Homo sapiens: one gene and its partners. The protein of the gene in region 1 interacts with the protein of each later gene in a pairwise test. Each region holds a gene or a part of one and is shown in the gene's direction. Other genes may lie near its edges.

What was found.
Region 2: the proteins of SMYD1 (region 1) and CFAP263 interact in a two-hybrid assay, tested with the Homo sapiens proteins (one large-scale study listed by BioGRID and IntAct).
Region 3: the proteins of SMYD1 (region 1) and POU2AF2 interact in a two-hybrid assay, tested with the Homo sapiens proteins (one large-scale study listed by BioGRID and IntAct).
Region 4: the proteins of SMYD1 (region 1) and CCDC33 interact in a two-hybrid assay, tested with the Homo sapiens proteins (one large-scale study listed by BioGRID).
Region 5: the proteins of SMYD1 (region 1) and OGDHL interact in a two-hybrid assay, tested with the Homo sapiens proteins (one large-scale study listed by BioGRID and IntAct).
Region 6: the proteins of SMYD1 (region 1) and C11orf16 interact in a two-hybrid assay, tested with the Homo sapiens proteins (one large-scale study listed by BioGRID and IntAct).

The regions. Positions count from the first base shown.
Region 1 is NC_000002.12:88,074,325-88,077,824, forward strand, and holds part of SMYD1 (histone-lysine N-methyltransferase SMYD1), read left to right. Parts: intron 1-3,500. UniProt on the Homo sapiens protein: Methylates histone H3 at 'Lys-4' (H3K4me), seems able to perform both mono-, di-, and trimethylation. Acts as a transcriptional repressor. Essential for cardiomyocyte differentiation and cardiac morphogenesis.
Region 2 is NC_000016.10:58,255,765-58,260,855, forward strand, and holds part of CFAP263 (cilia- and flagella-associated protein 263), read left to right. Parts: intron 1-2,603; coding exon 2,604-2,759; intron 2,760-4,089; coding exon 4,090-4,170; intron 4,171-5,091. UniProt on the Homo sapiens protein: Component of centriolar satellites contributing to primary cilium formation. In complex with CFAP263, acts as a regulator of ciliary beating that connects radial spoke 3 (RS3) to the inner dynein arm (IDA) and the nexin-dynein regulatory complex (N-DRC).
Region 3 is NC_000011.10:111,282,965-111,287,732, forward strand, and holds the end of POU2AF2 (POU domain class 2-associating factor 2), read left to right. Parts: intron 1-1,111; coding exon 1,112-1,413; intron 1,414-2,688; coding exon 2,689-3,090; 3' UTR 3,091-3,437; downstream 3,438-4,768. UniProt on the Homo sapiens protein: Transcriptional coactivator of POU2F3. This complex drives the development of tuft cells, a rare chemosensory cells that coordinate immune and neural functions within mucosal epithelial tissues.
Region 4 is NC_000015.10:74,329,374-74,334,122, forward strand, and holds part of CCDC33 (coiled-coil domain-containing protein 33), read left to right. Parts: intron 1-815; coding exon 816-981; intron 982-1,289; coding exon 1,290-1,378; intron 1,379-1,607; coding exon 1,608-1,739; intron 1,740-1,829; coding exon 1,830-1,923; intron 1,924-3,305; coding exon 3,306-3,472; intron 3,473-3,847; coding exon of another isoform or gene 3,848-3,949; intron 3,950-4,507; coding exon 4,508-4,594; intron 4,595-4,749.
Region 5 is NC_000010.11:49,733,543-49,739,316, reverse strand, and holds the end of OGDHL (2-oxoglutarate dehydrogenase-like, mitochondrial), read left to right. Parts: intron 1-1,054; coding exon 1,055-1,126; intron 1,127-1,244; coding exon 1,245-1,370; intron 1,371-1,458; coding exon 1,459-1,531; intron 1,532-2,796; coding exon 2,797-2,960; intron 2,961-3,139; coding exon 3,140-3,294; intron 3,295-3,965; coding exon 3,966-4,089; 3' UTR 4,090-4,676; downstream 4,677-5,774.
Region 6 is NC_000011.10:8,929,449-8,935,185, reverse strand, and holds the start of C11orf16 (uncharacterized protein C11orf16), read left to right. Parts: upstream 1-2,238; 5' UTR 2,239-2,285; intron 2,286-2,859; 5' UTR 2,860-2,877; coding exon 2,878-3,044; intron 3,045-5,652; coding exon 5,653-5,737.

The DNA.
Region 1 (3,500 bases):
TGGCTCATGGCCCCCTTCCTGAATCTTTAAAGCCAGCAGTGTAACATCTTGTTCCCTGCTGACCTCCTGCCTCCTCTTATAAGGACTTGCAATTACATTAGGCCCACCTAGGAAATTTGGGATACTGTCCTTGTCTCAAGGTCTTTAACTTAATCACTCATGCAAAGTTCCTCTGCCATGTAATGTAATCTATTTATAAGTTCTGGGGATTAAGACATTGACAATTTTTGGGGGGCTATTATTCAGTCTACCCCAACGAAAAAGAATTTTCTAGATTGATCCAATTCATCACAAAATATGTTAAGAAGGAGCAAGGACAGTTAGTGGATTTTTTTTTAAAAGTTCTTTAAATAAAAACTTGAGCAGTCTCTAAATTATTCTGGTTACAAAGTTGAAAGTGACCCGGAGATTATGTATATATAGTGTGTATATAGGGAAAAAGATAGTGGGGAACATGAGAAAAAGTTGAGTATTTGTAAATAAATTACTGTCAACCAGGCTTTTTTTGAAAATGGAACCAGTTATGAGCTTTCTTAGGTGCGGCAGAGCAGGTGGGGTTAGTCAGTGTAATTCTGTGTGAGCATGTGGGAATGGCAGGATCAGCCCTGGCAGACACACAAACACACATGTGGCCTTTAATCTGATAACAGCTGGTGGTTGGTTATTGGGGGATAAATGATGCTATAAATGGAAATAATTTAATAAAAGGATTAGAGAAATTCCGGAACAATTAGTTCAGAAAATGAGTAAGTGCTAAACTATTCAAGTGACAGCCTTAAATGTTTGCATTGGATGTTGAGAATAACCACAGTCGACTTAGAATTCTGCTTTTCATTTGGCACTTTTAGCTGCAGAGGCAAGACATGTCGACATGTTACACAACCTGTTGTGAGCTGTATTGCTAAATATTGCTCAATAATTCTTAAATCCAGAAGTCTGAGAATGATTGCCTTTTAAAGATGGATTAGATCAAATGGCAGGTTGTCCCCATAATGATGCTATCTTTACCCACTCGCATCCCAGGATGTGTTCTGAACATGAATTGAGGGGGGTGCTTCAGCTAGGCCATGGAAATGTATACAGGTCTTAGTAGGGTGTGTGAGCTGTGGCAGAGAAAATCTTGAGAATTGATGTTTTAATAAAAAAAGGGATGTTAAAAATAAATTGACAATCTCCAGGCTTGATCCAAGGAAACAGTACCTTTTAATTCTTTTTTTTTTTTTTTTTTTTTGAGATAGGGTCTCACTCTGTTGGTCAAGCTGGAGTGTCATGGCACAATCATGGCTCATTGCAGCCTCTACCTGCTGGGCCCAAGCCATCCTCCCACCTCAGTCTCTGGAGTAGCTGGGACTACAGGTGCCTGCCACCATGGCTGGCTACTTTTTATTTTTGTTTTTTGTAGAGGCAGTGGTCTCACTATTTTGCCCAAGCTGGTCTCAAACTCCTGGGCTCAAGTGATCCTCCTGCCTCAGCCTCCCAAAGTTCTGGGATTACAGGTGTAAGCCACTACCCCAGCCCCCACTGACTTCTTATGTCAAGGTATTTAATAGTCAGTGCAAACATGAATCTCATGATCTCATCCAACGGCTAACTCTGTCTCCTATATGTACACCCCCACACCGACACATTTGCCTATCAGTGCCTCTTTCTGGAAGACCTCAACCTTCTCTGAGTACAAACTCAGCCTATCTCTCGAGGTCAGAACAATGCCTCCTCATCTCGTAGGTGATGCCTTTCTAGATTGCCTCTCCTACCTCAGTTGAAGTAGTCTCTCTTCCTCGAAACTTACAGCAAGTTACCATGCTTGTGGAATGTGGGTCCTGCCTTGTTTATATGTGTTTATGTCCCATCCCAGCCTGGGGACTGCTTGAAGGCAAAGTCGGTATTTCCTTTATCTTTTTTGTTTTTGAGACAGAGTCTCGCTCTGTCGCCCAGGCTGGAGTGCAGTGGCGTGATTTCGGCTCACCGCAAGCTCCGCCTCCTGGGTTCACGCGATTCTCCTGCCTCAGCTTCCCGAGTAGCTGGGACTACAGGCGCCCGCCACCACGCCCAGCTAATTGTTTTTTGTTTGTTTGTTTTTAGTAGAGACGGGGTTTCGCCGTGTTGGCCAGGATGTTCTCGATCTTCTGACTTTGTGATCCGCCTGCCTCGGCCTCCCAAAGTGCTGGGATTACAGACGTGAGCCACCGCGCCCCGCCTTCCTTTATCTTTTAAGGCCCTCTATTACCTAGCTCAATGCACATAACAGATTCTCAATAAATACTTGCAGAATGAAGCAGGGAGGGAAGGAAAGACAGAGGGAAAGAAGAAAAGAAGAAGGAATGAGAAAAAGAATTTAAAATATTGTGAAGTTATCTGGGTACTTGAGGGATGGGATGTTCTTTAAGACACCTACCCCAGGCTGGGCACAGCAGGCTTACGCCTGTAATCCCAGCATTTTGGGAAGCTGAGGCAGGCGGATCGCTTGAGCTCAAGAGTTTGAGACCAGCCTGGGCAACATAATGAAATTCCATCTCTACAAAAAAATAAAAATAAAAACAAGCCAAGCGTGGTGGCATGTGCCTGTAGTCCCAGCTACTTGGGAGGCTAAGGTGGGAGGGTCGCTTAGGCCCAGGAGTTTGAGGCTGCAATAAGCAGTGATTATGCCATTGCATTCCAGCCTGGAGGACAGAGAAAGACCCTGTCTCAAAAAAAAAAAAAAAAAGACACTTCCCTCTAATTTTTGAGGAGAGACCTTCTGGCAGGCTGGGAGTTTGTAAGCATCCCTGAAAGACAGAACGGTTGAACTGTTGGTCCTGTCCTCTCTGGCTGAGTTTTTGGAGGGCTTGCCCACCATGCAGGCACCTTGTCTTTGCATTTATCTGTCCGTGAGCAACTATTTCCATACAAGGAGCTGAGCAGCAGCTGCCCTTCCAGCCCTCTTCACTCTGACAGATCACAGAGTCCAGCAGGGCTGCAGAGCAGAGTGAGAGGGGACCAGCTGCTGGAGCAGGGCACATTCAAGGCTGCAGGCCAAGCAGGTGGGCCTTGTAGCTGCATCCGCCCGCCTTCTGTGCTGGGAGCAGCGTCCGGCGTCAGGGACCCTTAAGAGAATAATATCCCTGTGAGGATAATGATCTCGGCCAGTCTAAAGGGTTGCTGTGAAGATTTTTAAAAAAACGAATCACTAAAAACATCTCTTTGAAATGGCAAAGTGCTGTGTAAGTGGGAGTTGATACCTTCTTGTGTGAATAGGAATGTAAGACTCGGGAGAAACGAGACTTGCTGAAGGTCACCCAGCTAAGACTGCCTGGGACAAATGCTCTTTCTCGGAATCCAAAAAGTGGCTTTAGGACTTCATGTTATTTGGACACTCTCCTGCACTAGGGGCAGTAAGGCAGGGGAGGGGTGGGCATTTCTTTTTTTTTTTTTTTTTTTGAGACGGAGTCTCACATTGTCACCCAGGCTAGAGTGCCGTGGCGTGATCTCGGCTCACTGCAAGCTCCGCCTCCCAGGTTCAA
Region 2 (5,091 bases), on another chromosome or scaffold:
ATGTTAGCCAGGATGGTCTCGATCTCCTGACCTTGTGATCCACTCGCCTCAGCCTCCCAAAGTGCTGGGATTACAGGCGTGAGCCATCGCGCCCGGCCCCTAGGTCAGCATTTCTATACGGCACACGTGCCCATGGTTTGTGCCCTGTTACAGAACAATATAGTAGTGTCTCTTAGTGAGTCCAATACAGTCAGTTTCCTCCAGAGAAGAAACATCACTGTTAATTCGGTTGCCCACAGGATGACGTTGTTGGCTTGCATTTGAGAGCCATGTTGTATGAAAAGTAGATACTTCTGTTCTATTTCTAAAGTTTTCTATTTTTCTGTTTCTAAATGTGGGCATTCGCAGAATCACACTCGTCTCAAGAGGGACCAGTCAGTAGACTCATGTCTCCCATTGATGCAACCGTCTGTATCACATCAACTGATCCTGCTCTCCCACCCCTCCTCTCTCTCTTTCTAAACATGCATTGTTGAATTCTAGCAAGTTAAAGGAGCTTGGGATGTGGTAGCATTATCCTGACCCGCTAGGTTGTGCAATGTGAGCATCAAGTGCAGAGATCAGAGATCAGTATGGGCTAGAGTGGTCAAAAAGAATTTGTTGAGGAGGTAGGGCTTAAAAGAGACTTGGCATGATCTTGAAGAATGATGGCATCTGTTTAAAGCACAGGGAAAGAAGGGCACCCCAGGTAAGGAGAATGACATGGGCAAGGCAGTGGAGGTGGGCACAAGCATGACATTGAGGAGGCCGGTGTGATTAGAGAAGACGCTACTTTGGAGGCTGCTTTAGGAAGTCAGGTTGAGTAAGGCAATGATTTCTTGACAGCCATGCCAAGGAGTTTATCTTTGATGTCTTAGAAAGCTGGACCCCACTGAGGATACTTGAGTAGGAGAGCAATGTGTTGAAAGTAGCATTTCAGGTGGGTTGATGTTCTACCATGTGGAGATGATGGGGCTGGAGCCTGAGGCCGGCCAGTGAAAATGCTTTTGCCTCTTGGTGTTCAGAAAAAAAGTCTGAACTAGGATGATTTGCAGTCTGGCTAGAGATACCATTCCATTTTATTTTTTATAGTAATATGTGTGTGTGTGTGTTCTTATTTCAAGGCAATCTATGTTGTAGAATGTTGAAAAATACAGTTAAGCTAAAAGAACATTTGAAAACATTCACAATTTACCACTCAGAGGTAATTTCTGTTGACTTTCCATTTACCTCCTACAGTTTAGATAATTTTCTATGCATATATGAATTTCTTTTTTTTTTTTTTTTTTTTTGAGACGGAGTCTCGCTCTGTCGCCCAGGCTGGAGTGCAGTGGCGGGATCTCGGCTCACTGCAAGCTCTGCCTCCCGGGTTCACGCCATTCTCCTGCCTCAGCCTCCCAAGTAGCTGGGACTACAGGCGCCCGCCACTACGCCCGGCTAATTTTTTGTATTTTTAGTAGAGACGGGGTTTCACCGTTTTAGCCGGGATGGTCTCGATCTCCTGACCTCGTGATCCGCCCGCCTCGGCCTCCCAAAGTGCTGGGATTACAGGCGTGAGCCACCGCGCCCAGCCTGCATATATGAATTTCTTCCAAAAATAGTATCATGTTATTTTGTAAACTGTATTTTTCACTTAACAACATCTCTTTACGTCAATACATATTTTCATTTTATAACATCTTTTTTTTTATTTTTAAGAGATGGGGCCTCACTGCGTTGCTCAGGCTGGAGTGCAGTGGCTATTCGCGGTCGCAATCATAGCACACTACAGCCTCGAACTTCTGGCCTCCAACAATCCTCTTGCCTCAGCCTCCTGAGCAGCTGGGACTACAGGCACCATACCTGACTTTATAATATCTTCTTTATTTTTTTTTCCATTTTTCCCCCCAATACTCAGGCTTGGAAATATAAAGTCTTTTTTTTTTTTTAATAACAGAAATATAATAAGAGTGCCTATTTATTTCCCCACTAATCCATCTCTCTAGATGTAACTGTCATTCATGTTTTGATGTATATCCTTCCAGATATTTTTAATGGATAAATAATTTCAAATATGGAAATACATATTTAGATAGATAGCTTGGCCAGGCGCGGTGGCTCATGCCTGTAGTCCCAGCACTTTGGGAGGCCGAGGTGGGCGGATCACCTGAGGTCAGGAGTTCAAGACCAGCTGGGCCAACTTGGTGAAACCCCTTCTCTACTAAAAATACACAAATTAGCCAGGCGTGGTGGCAGGTGCCTGTAGTCCCAGCTACTCAGGAGGCTGAGGCAGGAGAATTGCTCGAACCGAGGAGGCGGAGGTTGCAATGAGGTGAGATTGTATCACTGCACTCCAGCCTGGGCAATAGAGCGAGACTCTGTCTCAAAAAAAAAAAAAAAAAAAAGATAGATACCTGACACCTGTTTTTGTTTGCTCTCTTTTTATGGATTCTATTTTTTTGAAGAATGCTTTTAACTAATAACATTGATATAGTCAAGTTTGTATCTTAAGGATATGTTCCTAAGACTAAGAAGAAACATAATATTTTGGGACACAAAGAGGCCTGGGAACTTAGGTTTTCTTAGAAGACACATCCTTGAAGATTGCTGGAAACGTTCTTCTCTCTTTGTGCTGACTCCCCCAGGCGATCATTGAGGAGGCTGAAATTCGATGGAGTGAAGTTTCGAGAGAAGTGCATGAGTTTGAAAAAGATATTCTAAAAGCCATATCCAAGAAGAAAGGGAGTATTTTGGCCACTCAGAAAGTGATGAAATACATTGAGGACATGAACCGCCGGAGGGTAAGTTGGCAGACAGAGCTTAGAAAGGGAAAAAACATTCTTACAGGGATGTTATGGAAATCATCCATGTGAAGCAGCCTAGCTCCCTTTGGTCCACCATAAATGTTGCCCACATATGCGGATTTTCTTTGCATCCCTGAAAGTGTATGTGTATATGCATGTTTTAAAATGTATGTTTATGGCTAGGTGCAGTGGCTCATGCCTGTAATCCCAGCACTTTGGGAGGCTGAGGCGGGTGGATCATCTGAGCTGGAGGACCAGCCTGGCCAACATGGTGAAACCCCATCTCTACTAAAAATACAAAAATTAGCTGGGCGAGGTGTTTGTGCCTGTAATCCCAGCTGCTCGGGAGGCTGAGGCAGGAGAATCGCTTGAGCCTGGGAGGCGGAGATTGCGGTGAGCCAAGATCATGCCACTGCACTCCAGCCTGGGCAGCAGAGCAAGACTCCGTCTCAGAAAAAATAAATAAATAAATAAATAAATAAATAAATAAATAAATAAATAAATGCGTGTTTATCAAGGCTAACACCAGCCAGGCAGGAGGTATACTAACAGTACCTCAGATTGATCTCTGTTTTTTGTTTTGTTATTTGTTTCAAGATCTGATATATTTTCTTGAGAAAGGTATGAGACTGGTCTGGTCCAGCCTATCTAGAGAGGTGACTGTGGAGTAGGACAGGTAAATCTCTTTTTCAAAATTTTAAAAAAACCTTTAAAAAAATTGTTATAGAGATGAGGTCTCACTGTGTTGCCCAGGCTGGTCTTGAACTCTTGGGCTCCAACAGTCCACCCACCTTGGCCTCCCAAAGTGCTGGGATTACTGGGTGAATCTCAAGCTCTTTGAGATCCTTTGTTATCAGGAGATGGACCTTGGGCTGTTATGAGAAAAAAGGAGAATTTGGGGGGTAACCTTCATTTCCAGAGATTTTTACAACACGTCAAGCTTTAGATCCTGGAGACAAGGTAGGGTTATTACTAATCCTAATATGTTAACAGTAATAAAAATTATGTAAACTACCGTGGGAATACAAGACCAAAAAATCGTAAGATCATTTTGTCAGGAAAGGCCCCTACAGTAGCATACACCCAAATAATCTTGAATTTGAAAGCAATATAAAATTTGCATGGTGCAAAACCAGTGTCCTCTGCTTCTTGGTCATGAAATGTCATACCAGCCCCAGCTTGAGTAGAAGTAAAAGGACCTAAAATAAGTGACAGAATGTTAGGGCTCAAGGTTTGGTTTGCAGCCCCAGAACCATCCACTTTTCAAACCAATGGGAAAAAGGAGAGAAATGGATTAAATGCATTAAAATATGCCTTTATGTTTTAGGATAATATGAAGGAGAAATTACGTTTGAAAAATGTTTCTCTCAAAGTTCAGAGGAAAAAAATGCTTTTACAATTGAGGCAGGTATGTGGTCCTTTTTCTCTCTCTCTCTGTTTCTTTTTAAGGTTACTGTGGTAGGCTGAATAAGGTTCCCACCCCCACCCCAAAATATCCATATCCTAAACCCTGGAATCTGTGAATACATTAACTTACATGGCAAAAAGGATTTTGCAGATGTGATTAATTTAGGATCTTGAGATGGGGAGATGGTCTTGAATTACCTGGGTGGGCCCTATATAATCTCCCTCCTTATCAGTGGGAAGCAGGAGGGTGGGAGAAGCTATGATAACAGAAGCAGAGATCAGAGTGATGAGCTTTCATGAGAGGGAGAAGGGGTCAGGAGTCAAGGACTGCAGACAGCCTCTAGAAGCTGGAAATGACAAGGAAACAGAGTCTCCCCTAGAGCCTTGGGAAGAAATGCAGCCCTGCTGAGATCCTGATTTGAGCCTCCCAACCCATTTCAGACTCCTGACCTCCAGAACTGTAAGATAATAAATTTGCATTAAAACCACGAGGTTTGTGGTGATTTGTTACAGGAGCAACAGGAAACTCATATGATGACTGTGCAGGCAAATCAGAGGTTTTCTGTAGACAGAGTTGGCGTGAATTTAAAAGACCCTCAAGACATACTTGTTGGCCCTTTCTGGGAATATGGCCTGGTGGCACAGTTATATGTGCTTTGGTGTGTCTAGCATCGCCATCAGCTGACCCTAATGGCTCCTGATGAAAGGCAGTAAGGCAAACATGGTTCCATCCTTTCCTAGCTCAATATTTTTATTATTAACTTGAATTTGGGCACTGGTAGCATGCTCATCAAAGGGGGCTACTGACAAGGACACAAAACTGGGCAGGAGAATTAACATGTTGGGGGACTATTGCTTGAGTCACTCGGGATCCAGAAAGACCTCACCAAGCTGGGACAGATTTAACAGCATGAAGTGATGA
Region 3 (4,768 bases), on another chromosome or scaffold:
TTTCCTTGGAAACCATTTCACTGCTGGGCTTACCTTAAATGAAGCTCTTATCAGTTTCTGTCCCTCCCTCTCTCCACCAAGGAAAACTTTTTACTTTTTTTTTTTTTTTTTTTGAGACGGACTCTTGCTCTGGGCGAGATCTCAGCTCACTGCAACCTCCACCTCCCGGGTTCAAGTAATTCTCCTGCCTCAGCCTCCTGAGTAACTGGGACTACAGCAGCTGTGATTACAGGCATGGTGGCCCAGCTGATTTTTGTATTGTTTTTAGTAGAGATGGGTTTTCACCATGTTGGCCAGGATGGTCTCAATCTCTTGACCTCGTGATCCGCCAGCCTGGGCCTCCCAAAGTGCTGGGATTACAGGTGTGAGCCACCGAGCCTGCACCACCAAGGGAAACTTTATGTAGCCGGCACTGTCTTCCTAAACGTGCTGGGCCCTGGTGAGTTGAGTGAAGGAGTCCATGAGGCCACAAGAGGGCAGCAAATAACATAAAACTCATCAAAACCCTAAAACTACAGGCCTCTAAAATTGGCTTCTGTGTGGCCATCTAATCCTAAAGAAAGTCATTTATTGATGTCTGCCAGGCGTGCGACCCAGTGTAAGGTCAATGTGTGAAGAATTAGAAGGCAGAGTACAGCCTGCCTCTTTGAGGTGGGGTTATATGTGTTACCTTATCCAGACATAGCGATCTCAGATAACAGGCCAGGAGCACCTCTTGTTAACAGTTCTATGTATATGGAGAGGTAGCTCCGATGTTGTGAAAAAGATGCTTCCTTGGTTAAAATATGAATGCCAAGAGATTATTTCATTTATGTCTTCCTAGCACAGCGCCGGTCACCGGGAAGGTACTCAGTAAATGTGAATGAATGAACAGACACGGTACTGTCTAAAATGAACTCACCCCTAAAGGCGACAATGTTTTCAAACGTTAGTTATTTGGGCTAATGCAGGAATATTTCACGCTTTTCAAGACATTTCTCTATTTCCATGTTAGCGTTGGAGTCAGGCACGCGTTAGTAACATCGTTTCCCAGGCAGAGACTCAGCTGCAACCGAGGCCTTGACCGCCCTGGGAGGAATTTTCTGCCCATGTGTTTTTCATTTGGCAACAGGTTCGCCGGTCACGTCAGGTTACTACGGTGTCAGAAGATCTTTCTTATCTGACTCAGACTTCCACAACAGTAAACAGTTTTCAAATGACGTCTACACCTCCAGCGTGGGGAAGCCGTTTCCCTGTGAGTCCTCCGCAGGGCAGAGCCATGCGGCTCTCCTGGAGCCCTACTTCCCCCAGGAGCCCTACGGAGACTACCGGCCTCCGGCGCTGACGCCCAACGCGGGCTCTCTGTTCAGCGCCTCGCCCCTACCGCCGCTCCTGCCACCGCCCTTCCCCGGAGACCCAGCTCACTTCCTATTTGTGAGTATGCAGAGACCTCGTGTGAGGGAGTAAAAGAGGGGCGAGGCTCGCCCTCTGGCCAGCCGCTGTGCTTGGCATCCGGGTTGAAGCCAGGTCTGGCTCACCCTGTAGACTCCAGAGGCTGCTTTGCAGCTGCCTAGAGATGCCAGGACACCCTCCGAGGGAGCCTTGTTCAAGGATCCCTGTTAGCCATGACAGCCAGGAGCGTCTACGCAGGGCTTGGAACCGGGAGGAATGTGCAGCAGGATTTATATCCATTTTGTTAATGCTCTACTGATATTGCCTGATGTTCCCCCACCCTGTTAGTGCCAGTCGTCATCATTCCTGCAGCCCCTAAGGAAGGAACACTGAAGCTGCATCTCAGACATGCTAGGCAGTAATGAGATGGATCATAATCTCCCAAGGAGGGTACATAGGGCTCCTCTTTCTTTCCAAGTCCCCTGCCTCCCCTTCCCCACATTTTTAGCCTAAAAATCCTTGTTCTCTCTCAATCCTTCCAAACAGGTGAGTTCATAAAGATCTGAAGATTGCTAATGCTCATAGAGAATAGTAAAGGTTTCTACCACAAAGTAATGAAGCTCTAAAGACAGGAGTTTAGACAAAAGGGAGAGGATGAGAATTCACATTATTAAGTATACTCTATGCCAGGAAATGTGATGTGTTCATTCAATACTTGCAACAACTCAGGATATATTTATGAAAGTCCCATTTTACAGATGAGCAATGTCGGGCTCAGAGTCAGGAGGAGCCACGAATGAATCCAAATCTTTCTAGCTCCAAACTTACGGGATTCCTACCTCTTTCCTCCTGCTTTAATGAGGACAGAGTGGGCTTCTCAGTCCCCTCAAAAATTCACCATGGAGTTGAAGGCCTACTCCGAGGAGTGGGCCAAGCGCTGACCTTCCCCACTGTGTAAATGGCATTCTAGGACCCAGACTAATGGGAGACTCAAAAAGAATCCAAGACAGAGTGCATTGCACACAGTAAAATGTTGCATACATGTGCATTTTATTAGTCTCACATTTCACTCATTTAATGTTGTCTTCTGGGAAAAGGAATCTCAATATCTATAGCAAATCTAATTCTAGAGTAGGAAGGGAGGAAAACTTTCACTGCTGGTGTCAAAAGCCGGAGAGAAGAGCAGCCTGAGAGCCAGGCTTCAGGCAGCAGAGAGAGGGGACGAAGGCTGCCCTGAAGCCACAGTCTGGCAGCACACAATGTATCATCAGAGTGTCACCTAGTGAATAACCTCCGTGGCCTTTCCATTCTCCTCAGAGGGACTCATGGGAGCAGACGTTGCCTGACGGTCTCAGCCAGCCTGACCCTGTGTCTGCCGATGCCCTGCTGACCTTGCCACCCAGCACGAGTTGCCTCTCCCAGCTTGAGTCCGGGAGCATCGCCCAGCACAGGGGCTCAAGCTGGGGGTCATCCCTGGCTGGGGCTCAGTCATACTCGCTGCATGCTCTGGAAGATCTGCACCACACTCCGGGGTACCCTACCCCGCCTCCTTACCCCTTCACCCCTTTCATGACGGTGTCAAATGACCTACCGCCCAAGGTGGGGCCACTCTCCCCAGATGAGGAAGCAGACACCGGTTCCCTCCATGACCCTTCCCCTTGGGTGAAAGAAGATGGGAGTATTGCCTGGGGGTCATATGAATGCCGCAGAGCTTATTGAGGGGAGGGCCAAATGACTTCTGGGTTTTTCTTTAACTTGAGGTGTATTCCAAAGATTGTTTTAGGTGTGTCAGCCCATTCAGGACTGGATTTTCAGAATAAGCCTCAATGCTGCTCTTTGTTAGTGGACGAGGGCATTTATTTGTAATCCTCTCCACTGTAACCCCACTGAAATAAAACAGAATGTTAATTAAATGTGTCAGAGACCGTATTCTAGTAAGATAACCTTACAATGTGGTCTTTTTGGAACTGTTGTAACCCATTACGTTCTGAATCTTCTGTTATCTTTGAAGTATCATTTTTGGCACTGATTTTTCTTAAATTACATTAAAAAGTTTATGCAGATCATAAAAGATACTGATTTTCCTGTCAGATGTTTCTTAGTTTTAAACTATGTGTATTCTGCAGTAAAAGACACTGGATAGGATATAATATAGATATGACCACATAAAACTCATTTTATAGCATGTGACTTGAAAGAGTGAAGTGTTTCATATACATATATTTATGGCTTATTATAGTGACTTGTAAAACCCCAGTTAAAAAAAAGGTACAATCTATAAATATGTTATTGTCCATAAAATAGGATGAGATCAGGAAACTATGGCTTTGTACATAACAAAGTTATTTTTTGACTCTATCCTAAAGCCCAGAATGTCCCCAAATTAGTTCAATCCAAAAAAGTCCAAAAATTTTCTTTGATCAGTGATGGCCTTAATTAAACCAGACATTGTCTCTCTGATGGAATAAACCTACAGTTATCAGCATGAATGAGTAAAATAGGCATTCTGTAATCAAATGGAAATTTTTTTTTTTTTTGAGACAGGGTCTCACTCTATCACCCAGGCTGGAGTATAGTGGTGTAATCATGGCTCACTGCAGCCTCAATCTCCTGGGCTCAAGGAATCCTCCTACTTCTGCCTCCCAAGTAGCTGGGACCCAGGTGTATGCCACCATGCCCAGCTAGTGTTTTTATTTTTTACTTTTTTTTTAAAGTTTTTGTAGAGACAATGTCTTACTATTTGCCCAGGCTGGTCTTGAATTATTGACCTCAATCTATCCATCCACCATGGCCTTCCAAAGTGTTAGGATTACAGGCGTGAGCCACCACACCCAACCAAATTCATACCCTTTAAAGAAAATACAGAAAATAGGACTAAGCTGTTGGCAAGAAACAGACCACAAAACACCAAGAAGCAAAAGGACTTTGGAGAAGGACATATTGCCATGTGTGAGCCGATGGCTTGACAAACAGCACCTCCTATTTGGTGGCTTACTAGTCGGAAAAGTGCAGCTCTTACTATGTGTCAATGAAGATATTGACATCTGAAGCATGAATCTGTCCACATTGGATTGGTGTGGGTTCCTTTGCTAATTGGGTTCCCAGCATAATTCCAGCATGCCTATCTGCGGCCAAGCTCATCATACATGCCTGGTATACACTGAGACTTTGCAGATGCATGAGTGGAGGCCCCCGGGTTGTACCTGCACCCTTCTTCTTAGCTTCCTACCACCTGTCTTTCTGCACTTCATTCTCACATCTTTTCCACCCTCTGGTCCCTCCTGATCCAATGCCATTTCTCTCCATCTTCTGGAGGCCAAGGCCTTCATTTTCCCTCTAGTTGCCCAAAGACCCTCAACACAATCTCCATCACATCCTCTGTGACTGTCCCATACTC
Region 4 (4,749 bases), on another chromosome or scaffold:
CTAATCAGTCTTGTAACTGAGCAAGTTACTCACCTCTCTGGGCCTTGGTTTCCGCATTGGTATAACGGAGATAATAGTACCTATCCACGCAGGTCTGATGAGAGGACTGAGGGAGGGCACATAAAAAGCTTAGAAGAAGACCTGGAACACAGTGAATGCTCAATGAGCATCAGACATTAGGATTGCTGTTGTTCCTGACCTCATGGCTGACTCCAGCCCCCAGCCCCACCTCATACCCCACATCCTGTAGCTGGATCCCAGCCTCCACTAAGCTCTAACCTGGGTCTCCCAGGGTGACCTTGGGTCCTCTGACTACTGAGCTGTTTGGAGGGCTGATGCCCAGTCACCTTCCAAGTGGCATCCAGTGGGATTTCTGAGAGGTTCTTCCCTGGGTTCTCAGTGACGTGAGGAATGAGAGGAGTTAGAAGATGGGGAAGGAGGAGGGAAAAGGTGAAGAAATAGCTATGATCGAGCCAGACCCTGCAAACCTGGCCCTGGATCTTCTCAAGTCTCCATTGCCCATAGGCCTCCTCCCCTGTGTCCACACCTGGGGTTTCCCCCTGAGTTGGTATCACAGGACGTGATGTGGCCCCGGGGAGAGAACATTAGTGTGGCTGCCCTCACATGGCCAGGATGGGTGAGGATCAAGTCATAACCACCCTTCCAGGGAGCTGCTAAGACTTAGGGCCATGGCTTGGGGCTCCTGGTGCTCACTGGCCTTGTGGGGGACCCACTGACTTTCAAGTGTAGATGTGGATGTGGGACCAGGGTTGCTATGGGGCAGTGGGCTCAGCTCTGGGCTCTGGGATCCACAGGAGATGAACAACTACCGGCGGGCCATGCAGAAGATGGCAGAGGACATCCTGTCTCTGCGGAGACAGGCCAGCATCCTGGAAGGAGAGAACCGCATACTGAGGAGCCGCCTGGCCCAGCAGGAGGAGGAAGAGGGGCAGGGCAAAGCCAGTGAGGCCCAGAACACGGGTGAGGATGTGCAGGCCACCAAGGGCACCCGGGCTTCTGCCTGGGCCCAGGCTCCAGGTTGTGCAATAGGGTGGCTGGGAGCTTCTCCCAGATGTGCATGCTGCTGGACTCTGGCAAATAGGAGCCCCTCGCCCACAGACACTCACACAGTCCCTGCCCAGCTGGGTCCTCTCAGGGATGGGAAACAGAGAATCCAGTCCCGTCCCAAGCCCTCGGGCCAAGGGATATCTGCCTTCCTGCTACTGACCATGCTGATTTGAGCTGGGAGAGGCTTCCTCCCTGAGCCAGCTCCCCAACCCACCTAACAGTGTCCATGAAGCAGAAACTGCTGCTGAGTGAGCTGGATATGAAGAAACTGAGGGACAGGGTGCAGCATTTGCAGAATGAGCTGATTCGAGTGAGCTGGGGCTTGTGGGGGCAGAGGGGAGGGAGCTATGGTGGGGGAGCATCGGGGTGAGAAGAGTCTGGGAGGAGAAGGGAGAACAGGCACAGAGGGAATGGAAGCACGGAAGAAAGGGGGACCAGCCTGGTGGAGGATTCAGCAGAGGGGCCGAGGTGGACCCTCAGGGCCAAGGTGGACTCCCAGGCACCCATTCTCTCCCCTTCTCTCCTCCCCCATCTCACAGAAGAATGATCGAGAGAAGGAGCTGCTCCTTCTGTATCAGGCCCAGCAGCCACAGGCCGCTCTGCTGAAGCAGTACCAGGGCAAGCTGCAGAAGATGAAGGCGCTGGAGGAGACTGTGCGGCACCAAGAGAAGGCAGGTGGCAGAGGGGCTGCCCCCGAGGCCAACTGATGATGGCAGAGTAGGGAGCCCCTGGGCCAGCCCAGCCTCTGCTCTGCTCTCCAGGTGATCGAGAAGATGGAGCGGGTGCTGGAGGACAGGCTGCAGGACAGGAGCAAGCCCCCTCCTCTGAACAGGCAGCAGGGAAAGCCCTACACGGGTGGGTCCACACCCTGATGTGATCAGCTCCCCAGCTTCTGCTCCACCCCTGGAGGCCCTGCCTTCCTGGAGCCTCTCAGCTTCAGGAGAACCTGCGAAGAGGTCCCCTGCACTCAGTTATGTCTGTGGGCCTGGGAGACCCAGGATTGCCCTGCTCCCCTCCTCATTCAGGCGCCCCATCCAGAGATCCCCTGAGCTCCCTCCTTCCCTGGAAGCCCCTCAGAACACAATTGGGATGCAGTGTGAGCCAGGCTAGAAAGAGGGTGGACCTCCAGAGGAGGGCCCTGCAGACTAGCACAGCAGAGAGGGCCTTCCCCTGAAGAAGGGCCACCTGGGGCAACACTTCCCAGCTCCTAGCCCCAGGATCCGTCGAATTATTTCCCCATACCGCCAAAGATTCTGCCTCTGCAAAGCAAACAAACAAAAATACTTTGATTAAATCAATGATCTGGGGCCAGGCGCAATGGTTCATGCCTGTAATCCCAGCACTTTGGGAGGCCGAGGAGGGCAGATCACTTGAGGTCAGGAGTTCAAGACCAGCCTGGCCAACATGGTGAAACCCCATCTCTACTAAAAATACAAAAATTAGCTGGGCATGGTGGCGGGCACCTATAATCCCAGCTACTTGGGAGGCTGAGGCAGGAGAATCACTTGAGCCCAGGAGGCAGAGGTTGCTGTGAGCCAAGATTGTGCCACTGTACTCCGGCCTGGGTGACAGAGGGAGACTCCGCCTCAAAATAAATAAATAAATAAATGATTTGGAGGTTTTCTTCCCCATCGATATTAACCAAAAGCCACCTAAAACTGCCAATCAGCCTCTGATAAGCAGAAAGGACCAGGTAACACCATATCAGGCCAGCCCAAAGCAAGGGATTTCCCTGAGCCTGCCTGTGCAACCTCACCCAGGGCCCCTGTGTGCCCAGCCCTGTGCTTAGCCTTCACCGCTGAGGGTCTCAGGGGCAGGAGGGTGTTTCTAGGAGCCTTTAGAATGCAATGAAAGCTGGGCTGGCCTTTCAGGAAGCCTGAGGTCATCCAGGAGTCTGGATGAGACTGAGAAGGCAACCTAGGGAGGGGAAACAGCCAGATCAAAGGCCCAGGGAGTGAGAAGAATTCCAGGATCAGAGAAGGGAGGAAGAGAGAGAGGTGAGGAGCTGAAATACACTGAAGACAAATGAGGAGTTAGAGAGAACGTTGAGGTCAGGTTCTAAAGAGCCTAGAAGGACAGCCTGTGTGCACCTGATCCCACTGGTGGTAGGGAGCCATTGAAGGCTTGGGAGTAGAGGGGAGGGGTGGCAGATTGAAGCAAAATGCTGGAGCAGATCAGGACAGGGACATGGGAAGCAGGAGAGCCCATCTCACCAACATCTGTGGCCGTGTCTCTAGGCTTCCCTATGCTCTCAGCCTCTGGCCTTCCCTTGGGTTCTATGGGAGAGAACCTGCCGGTTGAACTTTACTCGGTGCTGCTGGCAGAAAACGCGAAGCTGCGGACGGAGCTGGATAAGAACCGCCACCAGCAGGCCCCCATCATTCTGCAGCAACAGGCCCTGCCGGTAAGAGGCCCTTGACCTGGGCCTGCCTATGCCGGTCACTGGGTGCCCAGAAATCACCCATGGTACAACCCAAGTTGAAGATCAAGACCAGGAGCTAAGCTTCCCAGGGTCTCCAGTCTGCCTGGGGGCTCCTGGAATCAGCTCTCAGGCCTTGGTCTTTTTCTCCTGCGGAATGTGTGTCCCCGAACACTTCACCTTTAACCTCATCTAGCATCCCAGGAGAAAGCAAGCCCCTTGTTGACCCTTGGTCCCTGAACCCTGACCCCTTTTTCACCTGGCTGGCCTCCACCTGGACCCTACACAGGCCTCTCAAAACTCCCTTCTGGAGCATTCCCTGGTCTTGGTGCAGCCTTGGAGAGCCCTTTTCCATCCCAGGTGGACCCCGGGGAGTTGGGAGCAGGAGGAGACTTGACAGAGAGGCTACAAGAGACGCATGGCCCAGGCCACTCAGAGTGCACAGAGACCCTGCCCGCACAGGTGGGTGGCCCAGGGCCCAGAAATGCCCAGGCCCTGCTCCACCTCTGAAGATGCTTCAGGGGCCCCTTGCTTTACATAAACCCCAAAGCAGAACATTTGGAATCACAGAATATTGGGCAGGGCAGGGGCACAGGAGAGTTTTCTCTCCATCCCAGGACTCGCCGGAGGTGAGTTCTGTTGAAAGCACACCTGACTCATGGACATCCAGGTAAAGTGTGAGGGATGAGGTCAACTGCCTCACAGGTTCTTCACTTCACTCAAAGACTCCCAGTGCGTTAATTATAGGGGGCTCCCTAATGCATTTTACATTAAAAAAAATGTTGTGTCAAAACTTCGTATTCTCAAAATCTGTGTGGGAAACAGCTGTGAAAAAAGCACATGCCAGACCCTGTTCTGAACTTCCAGAAGAGGGTTCGGCCCAGGTCTGACGCTCTGCCTCGGGAGCTCAGTCTGAACTCAGGCCTGACTGGTTTCTTCCTCAATACCTTATGGTTTCCCAAGCTCACACTGCCACAGCCTCCAGCTGGGGCCAAATGTGAGTTTGTGCTTTGCCCACAGGATCTCCTCTCTGGTACTTCAGACAAGTTCAACCTCCTGGCCAAGCTGGAACACGCTCAGAGCCGGATCCTGTCCCTGGAAAGCCAGGTGGGTGAGATGCAGGAGTTGATGAGGCTGGATCAGGCTCACCACACAGCCTATAACCAGGGCTCAGTGTGTGAGCAGAGTCTAGGCTCAATCTATGACCAGGATCAAGGCTTAGTGTGTGGCCAGGGTCGGGGTTCAGTGTGCAACCAGGGTCA
Region 5 (5,774 bases), on another chromosome or scaffold:
TTGCCCAAGGTTTCACAGCTAGTAGCTGGGGTTTGAAGCTATCCTGTGCAGTACTGCCTGTTCTCTGGTCCCCTCCTGTATGACCTGCCTCTGCAGCCACACATGGGGCAGAGGGAAGACATGCAGGCTGGGTGCATCCTCCGGAGGCTCCTGGGCTAGCAGGAAGGGAGGAAGGAGCAGGGTGTCATGTGATACCATCTGGTGGGCAGGTGGCCTGACCAGGCAGAAGGGAGACAGGCAGGGGGCTCATTGCCACCATTATCCCTGAGTGGCATGTTATGAGCACTTTACAGGCTGCATACTCGGCATCCTCACAACACCGGGTATCAGTGAGGAGGGAGGTGAGGCTCCCTGCTTGGGGCTGCCTGCCGTGAAGGCAGCTTCTTGGGAGGCCAGATCTGGGCCAGGCTGGGTGTGGGGGGCTGGGTCCTTGGCCGTCCCCACCAAGAGAGGGCAAGTGGCAGCTGTGCAGTGGGTCATCCCCGTCCTGCAGGAGCTGGCTTGGAGATGCCCCTGGGCTTGTCTTGCTGCTTTCATGGAGCAGAGCGGTCCGTGTGGGTGAGGGTGGGCGAGGCCCAGGCCGAGTTGGGTTGGCCCCTGCCTGGCTGTGTGGTCATGGGTGGTTTCTTACCCTCTCCTTGCCTCTTCATCTGTGCAGTGGGGAAGAGTGTCTGCATCATGGGGCTACTTTGGGGGTTAGCGATAAGGCGTGTGGGATTCCTAGAACTCTGCCTCCTGTACAGCAGGTGCTCAGTCAGTGGCAGCCACTGTTCCAGGACATTCCAGAGAAAGCACGTCTCAGTGCGGGCTTTTTGCTTTTTCTTCTGTCCCTGCAAGTTCACATACTGTGCTAGCTCTGGGCAGACCCCACTCTGAGGATTCCCATTCTGCTCTTGTTCCACATTCTTGGTTCTTTTCTATGGTTCAGGCTCCAGGGTGAGGGCACCTCTGCTGAGAAGCCCTCCAGACTTTCCCCTGAGCCTGGGGTCCCTGCAGGGCCAGATGTCTTTCCCATGGTGGGGTCCAGCCTTGGCTGTCTGGCGTTTGCTTTCAGGGCCCAGAGCACTCGTCAGCGAGGCCCGAAAGGTTCCTGCAGATGAGCAATGATGACTCGGATGCCTACCCTGTGAGTGTTGCTGCTGTCCCCAGGACAGGGACGCGCCCTATTGTGCCCACAGGGCTAGGGGTCCAGGGTGTGGGTGCAGCAGACAGCCACCCTGGCCATATGCATCTCGTCCCCACAGGCATTCACCAAGGACTTCGAGGTGAGCCAGCTCTATGACTGCAACTGGATCGTGGTCAACTGCTCCACACCGGCCAACTACTTCCACGTGCTGCGCCGGCAGATCCTGCTGCCCTTCCGCAAGCCGGTGAGTCTCCGTCCCAGGGCAGGGGTCACAGGCAGGGGGCCTGGCCAGGCAGGGCCAGCTGGCAGCTGGGCGTGTATTTCCCTTCCAGCTGATTATCTTCACACCTAAATCTCTGCTGAGGCACCCAGAGGCCAAGTCCAGCTTTGACCAAATGGTATCCGGTACGTGCCTGGCCTGGGTGTGTGGGGTAGCCCACAATGGGGCGGTGGCCCATTGTGTGGCTTCTGCTTCTGGGGCTTCTCCAACCTCCCCTCTGCCTGTGGCTCTGCTGACCTGCAGCAGCTCCTGGCATGGTCCCACTAGCAGTAGGGTTGGGAGGTTGGCACAATGGCTGACCTGGGCCAGCTCAGGTCATGTGGGTTGCGTCCATGGTAGAGTCCACTGGGGCCCCCTTAGACCCTAGCAGGGCTGGTCGAGGCCTGGCAGAGGCCTGCTGAGTTCGCAAGATATTGAGTATCATTCATTCATTTGTCCATTTTAAAAATTCATGAGCCAAACAGACATTACAGGCCCTGGGGTCCTGGTGTCCCCTCCAGGAGTCTTTGGCCTTATTTCCCTGGGAGTCAGATCAGATAAAACACTATAGTTGCAACTGAGAGGTGACTATGTCCAGGGAAGGACAGGTGTGAGGCTGGTGGAGCAGAGCTGTCTTGGAAAATGGTCCTGGGCAGTAGAGGGAGGGCTGGGAAGGGCCTCAGCATGGACAGGGGTTGGATTTTCTCCCATGTGTGTTTGGATGTCCCCTCTGTGCAGGTGGGCAGCTGTTAGAGCTCTGATGTCGGGACTGGACTACCTGGGCTACCTGCCCTGTGCTGGCTTCTCTCTTGAGGGCCTGGGATCCATTTGTCCTCTCTACCCCAGAGTCTTCACCTGAGATGCAGGGATGTGAGGACACTACAGTAGCTTCCTGAGAGGTTTTGCAGTGTGCGTGACCTGGGGTCAGGATCATGGGCTCAGGAAGGAAGAATGGTTGGGGCTTGGAGGTGAAGCTCAGCTGCCAGGCTGAAAGAGGAGGAGCATGCAGCAGCCTCCTGGGACATCTGCTTAGTGGTGGGGGACTGCAGTGCTCTGCAGGAGGTGGGCGCAGCTGGGCAGAAGCAAGGTTGGGGCAAAGGATGATGCCATCATGTTGCCTTCTCTGTCTCCTTCAGGGCGCTTCTTATTGTACCCCCACCTCCGGTCACCTTAAACGTGATGCTTCCAGGGCTCAACCCTTGGGTGTCTCCACCCCTCTCCCTATGACAGCTCAGGGTGTCATCTGCCCCCTGCTCCATCTTTTAGTTCAAGAGGTGTCCACTGCAGCCACAAGTCCAAACCTGCAGTTAGTGTCAGTGGCTAAGGAGAGCCTGGGGATGCAGGCCTGGTCCTGAGCTGCCCCAGCCCCTCTGGGTACCAACGCCTCTGCCATGTCCTGTTGGTCCCTCAGGGACCAGCTTCCAGCGGGTGATTCCTGAAGATGGGGCCGCAGCACGGGCCCCTGAGCAGGTGCAGCGGCTCATCTTCTGCACGGGAAAGGTGTACTATGACCTGGTGAAGGAGCGGAGCAGCCAGGACCTGGAGGAGAAAGTGGCCATCACGCGCCTGGAGCAGGTGTGCCTGAACCCCTTGTACAGTCAAGTGATGGGCAAGCTCACGTCGCTGGCCCCGGCTCTGGCCAATGTGCCAGGCAGGCCAGATGAAGGCCGGTGAGGCCCTGTGCCTCCTGTCCGGGGGTGCTGGGGACATACCGCCCCTCCTCTGGCTATGCTCCTTTGTTTCTGCCTCCCCAGATCTCTCCATTCCCCTTCGACCTGATCAAGCAGGAGGCAGAGAAGTACCCAGGTGCGGAGCTGGCCTGGTGTCAGGAGGAGCACAAGAACATGGGCTACTATGACTACATCAGCCCACGCTTCATGACCATCCTGAGGCGCGCACGGCCCATATGGTACATGGTGGGGCCGCTGATTGCCCCTCACCTCGGCCCTGAGGCTCTGTCCTGGCTCCATCTGTCCCATAGGCCATGCTACCCAGAACTGGCCCTGCCCTTCTCTGGTGATGAGCAATGATGGGGCATCATCAGTACTGGCTTTGTGTTTGTTCTGCAGCCAGAACTGTATTAAGGAACCTGCTACATGTCTCAAAACTCCTGCCTTAGATCTTAGGCCGGTTATGTAGTCCTTGGAGCCTTAGTCCCTGCATCTCTACAAAGGGCGGTGATAAGATTAGATCTGATGTATGTATTAGCTCTGGCACATGGTGCGTTCCCAATACTGGCATCATGTGTTCCTGGGAAGATGGGAGAGGGTCCTGAGAAACTCCAAGAAGCCAAAAGTATGTTTGTCCCCAAAGTCTTTGAGTTGTTGCCTCATTTGTTGTCCTCATGGGCAAGTGCAGTGACATGGAGGGACAGTTTCTCCCCACTCTTCTGTGGCTAGGTGACTGAGTTTGATCCGGGCTTTGCAGCTCATTGGAAGTGGTGCCAGGGCCAAAAGGCAGGGTCTATGGCTTCGAGGTCAGCGGTTCTCAGATGCGTGCCCCCTGCAGTCCCGGAGTGAGGGCAGCGGTTGGGGGGCGGCTAGGCCCCGCCTTCCCCTTAGCTTGTCTCTCCTCCTCCAGGTATGTTGGCCGGGACCCAGCGGCTGCACCAGCCACAGGAAACAGGAACACTCACCTGGTGTCACTGAAGAAGTTTCTGGATACTGCCTTCAATCTCCAGGCCTTTGAGGGCAAGACATTTTAGAGCTGGGCAAAACCTGTGTAGGTCTCGCTGTGGGTTTGCTGGGGACCAAGGGGGTGATGAAAAGGGGAGGGGCGGAGCTCCTGCCCAGGAGAGGGGCTGTGGGGCCCCAGGATAAAACAGACACAGTGACAGGGCCAAGAGCCAGCACTGCTGGCCTTGGTGTCATGCCAGAATCTACCAGGACTGAGGGAGCCAGAGGAGTCCTATAGGCAGGCTACTGTGCTGGAGCATCCCCCAGCTGCTCCCATCTTGCTGGAATTTCTTGGGCGGCTTCTCCACCTGTATCTCAAGACAGACACCCGGGGGCCTGTGTCTGTGGCCGCTCCCATCCCGGCAGCCCTGGCTGCTGCTCGCCCCACCCTCGCTTATCTGTAGATTCAAAGCGATGTTCTCTTCTGTGCTCTTAGAAGTAGGGAGTTCAGCAGTAACAGCCAGGTGAAGCGAACCTGCTGGGTGATTTGTTTGCGCTCTGTTTTATGGGGCATTCCTGCGAGATGTGTCAGCTTCTGTGTGAAATGCAGCCACAGCTCATGTGTACCAAAGTAGAAAACCAAATCACAGAGAAATAAAAACATGCTTCAGAGAGATTTGCTGTTTTCATTTCATGTTGTAAAACTGGGGGAGGGATAGGCAGTTGAGAGAAGGTAGGGAATGGGGAGAAAGTTAAAAAAATGGAGAGAAGAAAATATCTGCCTCCATGGATATTTTTTTGAGACGGAGTTTGGCTCTTGTCACCCAGGCTGGAGTGGAGTGGTGCGATCTTGGCTCACTGCAACCTCCGCCTCCCAGATTCAAGTGATTCTCTTGCCTCAGCCTCCTGAGTAGCTGGGATTACAGGCATGCGCCACTATGCCCGGCTAATTTTTTTGTATTATTAATAGACGGGGTTTCACCATGTTGGCCAGGCTGGTCTCAAACTCCTGACCTCAAGTGATCCGCCTGCCTTGGCCTCCCAAAGTGCTGGGATGACAGGTGTGAGCCACTACGCCAGATTTTCATTTGAGCACCAGGTAGTGTCTGTTGGCTTCTCCACTCTGGCCTTTTGTGGGTTTTGCTTCCCTGTGGAGATACTGGAGAAGCTGCCACAGAGGAGGGATGTTTTGCTTGGAACAGATCATGTGTTCATTTATCCCCTTCTCAGAGCACTTCCTCCGTGCGGGACACTAGGGCCCGGGTGGAAGGCATCTGTCTGCATGCTGGCTTTTCGCATCGGGAGTCCAGTGGGGAGACATGTCAGCTGTTTAATTCATTGAGTTACGAGTTATGTTGGAAGTCAATGCAGACAGCTGTGGGTGTCAGGGAAGGATCCCTGGAAGAGGTGGTGTTCAAAGGAAGAGGAAAAGAGAGATGAACCTCTCTGGAACAGACAGAAATACTGACCATAGGGCTGGCATGAGCAACCTAAAAGAACGATCAGCGTGAGGTTGGACAGTGGAGTGTTAAGTTTTATCAGCCTCAAAAATAGCTTGTTGAAAAATTAGCTGGGCATGGTGACACGTGCCTGTAATCCCAGCTACTCAGGAGGCTGAGGCAGGAGAATTGCTTGAAACTGGGAGGCGGAGGTTGCTTTGAGCCAAGATCGTGCCACTGCACTCCAGCCTGGGTGACAGAGCAACTCTGTTTCAAAAAAAAAAAAACAGAGTATGTCTTGTTGAGATATACTTTGAATCCTACCACAGGGACAT
Region 6 (5,737 bases), on another chromosome or scaffold:
GTTTTCAAAGCTCCCTACTGCAAAACAAAGCAGCAAACATAAGAAGCCGTGTTTTCTCATTTCTCCTTGCCAGCAACATTTCACAAAGCCCCTGACTCTTACCGCAGGCAGCTCTTTCGCTCTTCAGAAAGAAGCTTTGAAGACACGACAGGACAGAGTACACGCCCCTCTCCCTCCTCCACCCCGTCATCTCCTGCCTGAGTCACTACATTCCTTAAAAGATAAATGACCCGAGTTTTGGCCTTTTCCTATATGTAAGATAACATCTGATGGGATTAGCGATGATGCCTCTGTAATCTATAAGCAGGATTACTCTCACACCCACACTCTGATGTGAGTCTGCTTTAATGTGACTCCTAAGCAAGTTCAATGTGATTTTGCATGTGCTGAACCCATTTCCCCCAAACAGAAAATCACAGTCTCGCAAATGTATCCTTCTCTCTTCTCTCTTACTTCCTACCTAAACTAGAATATTCTCCTTTTCCCCTCCTCCACTGAAATCCCACTGTCTCATTCAAGAATCATTCTTTCACTGCCAGAGACTTCACGGGTATTTTTTAATTTATTTTTTATTTTTTGAGACAGAGTCTTTCTTTGTCACCCAGGCTGGAGTGCAGTGGCGCGACCTCGGCTCACTGCAACCTCTGACTCCCTGGTTCAAGCGATTCTCCTGCCTCAGCCTCCCGAGTAGCTGGGATTACAGGCGTGTGCCACCATGCCCAGCTAATTTTTTGTATTTTTAGTAGAGACGGGGTTTCACTGTGTTAGCCAGGATGGTCTCGATCTCCTGACCTCGTGATCCACCTGCCTTGGCCTCCCAAGTGCTGGGATTACAGGCATGAGCCACCGCGCCCGGCCATGGGTCTTTCTTAGACTCTCTGTGTGCCAAATAACTCCGCCTTGGTATACGGTCCTGGGCAGCAGTCATTCTCCTGACTATGAAGTGATGCTTCGGGAGGGCAGTCATCAGTTAAGAGGCTTTTGGTTGCAAGTAAGAAACAGCCCAATCCAGAGTGGCATAATCAATAAGGGGAATTATTGGCTCACAGAGCTGAGGCCTAGAGTAGCAGCACTGCCTGCAGGCAGGACTCAGTACTGTCACCGAGAACCTATTTTCAGCTGGGCGTTGGGGTGCATGGCTGTAGTCCGAGCTCCTTGGAAGACTGAGGCAAAAGCATCCCTTGAGCCCAGGAGTTTGAGGCCAGCCTGGGCAACCCTGTCTCAAAACAAACAAACCAACCAACCCTCTATTTCCTGAGGTCTATCCTCTCTTTCTCTGGGAATAGCTTCAGTGTTCCCAAAAGGCTGTCAGAGGCTCTCAGAACTATCAGCTTTCTTATTCAGGCATAGGAAGAAAGAGAAAGCCTATATCCCAGGATTCCCAACCAAAGTCTCCAGATTCCTGCTGATTGGAGAGGTTCAGGAACACGCCACTGCCTGACCAACCCCTGGGGCCAGACGGGGATGGAAGGGGTGACTGACACCCACTCTACCCCTGGAGGTGGGTACTTTGGCCTCCCTATCCACATGGATCTGCCAACTGAAACAGGACCTGGTAGAAGCGGGGTATGAATGTGGGGGAGACACATCCAAACGTGCCTGCATACCAGGCATATAACCAGTGCACAGTGACTGGCAGAGGCCTCCAAATACGAGCCCCTCCCACAAGCAGAATCTGGACTTCTGTTCCTTTGTTGCCAGTGTCCACACCTCTCACTCCAAATGGTCACAACACCTCTGCTCCTCAACAGAGTCCTGCCTGTTATAGACAAACAGGCCCACACCTTTGGTTATTTTGGTTTAGACTAGGGACAAATTCTATCCTAGAGTCCCCAGGCCGCCAGTGGCTCCCCCATTCCTGCCTCTAGTGTGTACAGGGAGGACGCCCTCAGTTTCTGCGGAGGTGGCTCCTCCCTCACAGGAGTCTCCTGGGATCCGTGAGGGCTTCCCACCACCACTGACTCTTCCAGCAGTGGAGCAGCCTGAGCTTTGGAGAACTGAGGCTACACTGGCCTTTTTCCCTTCTTCCTCCTCCTCTTCTCTCCAAAGGGAAACCTGGAGAACACCCCCTCCCCCATCACTTCCTGCCCCACCCCTACCTCCCAAGGCCTCCTGTCCCCCTCTCCGCATGCTCGGTGCACTCACTGGCCACAGACGACAGCGTCCCCAGGCTGCACCCATGGTAACCGGCGTGGCAACCAGGAGTCGGTTGGGCTGAGACCCTGAGCCCCAACTGTCAGAAGGAGCCTGAGGCTGAGGTGGAGGCTGGGAGTTTGGGGCTGTGGGTAAGTCCTTGTGGGGTCAGACCTGTGGACTTGGGCAGGGGCAGACCCTCACGGGGCTCTGGTGGGCTGCAGCAGTGCGGCTTGATCTTGGGCCCTGGTGGCAGCTGTCTCCTCTGAACAGGGCTGGAAAGGGGATGGACGGCCCTGAGATCTCAGCTTGCCTGAGGCCAGAACTAGCCTTGTAGGTGGCCGGGGAGGAGGAAGGAGGAAAAATACTAACATAAGTTGAGCTGCTGAATACGCCAGGTGCTTTCCATGTATTCTATCCTGAGTGTAACTGGAGAGCAGAGGTTAAGTGAGCACACAGCCAGCAGGCTGTAGGGGAGGATTTAAAGCTGGGCTGCTCTAAACTCACAGCACTTGCTCTTCCAATCCCTTCCCTGTTTCCTGAGTGGAGGTTCCCAAGGCAGGTGACTCAAAGAGGAAACTGTGAGAGTTTGTGGGAGCAGGTAGGGCCGTGCATGGACTCAACTGTCCCCAGAGGCAGCTAACTGCAGAGCTGAGCCCTGCCTCGCCCCGGTGGCCACTGCTTGCTTCAAGCTGCAGCTCAGGTAATGGTGGTGCCTATTCTCAGGTGGATCCTCTGAAGGCCATGGAATCCTCCACGGGGCCCAGGATGCCTTTGCTCAAATACTGCAGCGTGGCCACAAGCCTGAAGGCCCCTGGCTGGGACGGTGCTGCTCCACCTTGGGACCTCTCCTTCACCTACCCCTTTGCCCTCCAAGCACCCTGGCTCACCGGGCACAAGCCCCTTGCAAGGTACCTGTCTCTGCCCCTCTGGGGGAAGTGGATGCCCTTTTCTTTTTCCTTTGTTCTTGGCTGTTGGTGGTAGACCTTGGTGGACAGACTTGCTTCCTGAGAAGGTGGAAAGGGGTCGTCATTGTTTGGCCTATGATTGGCATATCTGTGTGGGGTCTGTCACTCCAGCCTACATTGTGCTCCCAGAGCCCTCCAGGGTTGATCTGGCTTTAGCAGAGTTGCAGATGCTGCAGTTGGCATGAGTAAGAGAAGGCAGTTAGGGATAGCCAGTTACCAAGTTTATAGCTCATTTTACCATCAATGCTGAGACTTGGCTGGGCGCAGTGGCTCACACCTGTATACAATCCCAGCACTTTGGAAGGCCGAGGCAAGCAGATCACTTGAGGTCAGGAGTTCGAGTCCAGTCTGACCAACATGGCAAAACCCCATCTACTAAAAACACACAAAAAATTGGCTGGGCATGGTGGCTCATGCCTGTAATCCCAGCACTTTGGGAGGCCAAGGCAGGTGGTTCACCCAAGGTCAGGAGTTCGAGACCAGCGTGGCCAAGATGGTGAAACCCCGTCTCTACTAAAAATATAAAAATTAGCCAGGCATGGTGGCGGGTGACTGTAATCCCAGCTACTCAGGAGGATGAGGCAGAGAATTGCTTGAACTCGGAAGGTGGAAAGGTTGCAGTGAGCCGAGATCGCACCATTGCACTCCAGCCTGGGTGACAGAGTGAGACTCTGTCTCAAAGAAAAAACAATAATTAGCTGGGCGTGGTGGCACATGCCTGTATTCCCAGCTACTCAGGAGGCTGAGGCAGGAAAATTGCTTGAACTCGGGAGGCAGAGGTTGCAGTGAGCCGAGACAGCGCCACTGCGCTCGAGCCTAGGGAACAGAGTGAGACTCTGTCTCAAAAACAAAACAAAACCAAAAAAAAAAAAAAAGAGACTTGCTCAGCCACCATATGAGAAATCAGCTAATGTGGGGTCTCCAGGTCCCTCTTCAGGTTCCCTCGGTACCCCTCCTTTGTCCAGGATTTTCCTGAATAGGATCCTCAGTCTGCTTTCTAAAGCGTGGATACAAGAGGCCAAAGGCACCACAGCCCTATATACACATGTGGAGCGTGTCATCTCCAGGGACTCGCATTCCTGCTGCCTGATCCATTCTGCCCACATTAGGGACATGCCAGCTTGAAAGATCCTTAATGGCTCCCTTTCGTGATCCACCCGGTGGACCATCCTGTTCAAGGCTAGAGTTAAGCATGGGACTTTAGATGCCAACAAGCACAGGAAGGAGGCTGAGGGGGGCTGAGGGCAGCTCAGCATGGGTCTGCAGGAGCTCCTCAGCACGAACAGCCTGGGTGCAGTGACGGCATGTTGATGGCAGCAGGAGGCAGACAGGCCCCCTTTGCATTCAGCCTTGCCCACAAAGTAAAATGGCTTCTTCAAAAACCCAAACCCTGACTCAACAACTCCCCTAGGCCAACTGGCCCTGACCACAACATTTTCTGGAACTAGCATCTCCTTTTTCTGTCCCACAGCCCCTTAGCTCCTCTGGGTTGTCCCTGCCCAAACACTTCCTCATCCCTCTGACCCCACAGCATCAAGTGGCATTACAATTTCACACCCTCGGCATTACTATCCAAGCTTCCACGCCTCATCCTGGAATCCCACACGCCGCCTTAGGATTGACCTACCTGGCACTTTTTTTTTTTTTTTTTTTTTTTTTTGAGACAGAGTCTCGCTCTGTCACCAGGCTGGAGTACAGTGGCGCAATCTTGGCTCACTGCAACCTCCGCCTCCTGGGTTCAAGCGATTCTTCTGCCTCAGCCTCCTGAGTAGCTGAGACTACAGGCACCCACCACCACGCCCACCTAATTTTTGTATTTTTAGTAGAGGTGGGGTTTCACCGTGTTGTCCAGATAGTCTCGATCTCTTGACCTCGTGATCCGCCCATCTCGGCCTCCCAAAGTGCTGGGATTACAGGTGTGAGCCACTGCTCCCGGCCCCTGGCACTCTTTTCTTTTCTTTTTTTTGATAGGGGTCTCACCTTGTCACCCAGGCTGGAGTGCAGTAGTGTCATTTCAGCCCACTGCAACCTCTACCTCCCAGATTCAAGCAATCCTCCTATCTCAGCCTCCCAAGTAGCTGGGATCACAGGCTCACACCACCACACCCAGCTAATTTTTTGTATTTTTGGTAGAGATGGGATTTCACCATGTTGCCCAGGCTGGTCTTGAATTTCTGAGCTCAAGTGATCCATCCACATCGGCCTCCCAAAGTGCTGGGATTACAGGCTTGAGCCACACTTTTCCAGTCTGTTGTCTAGTGTAGGAACAAGCATCAATTAACTTGAATGTATCAAGGCGAATTACATTTTGGTTGCCTTGAACCAACTCCCAATCCACCAAGGATGGTTCCCTTCACTGTCCTCTCCTTCTGCCCCTCCCGGAGGTTTACCTTATCCTTCCGGAAGTCATAGATTGCCACTTTCCATATGGATTTCTGTTCCGCATGCCTCATGTGCTGTGGTGTACCTCAGATGTACCTGCGAAACGTGTTTCTTGATGTGTTTAGGGCTTGTTGCTCTCTATCCACTAATTCCATTTGCTTTTTTCCAGGCATGCCTCTTCTTGCCCATGTCTCCACGTTGCCGACCCAGCATGGCAGGGGCCTGGCTGGCTGGGAAGAGCTGGAGATGCTGCC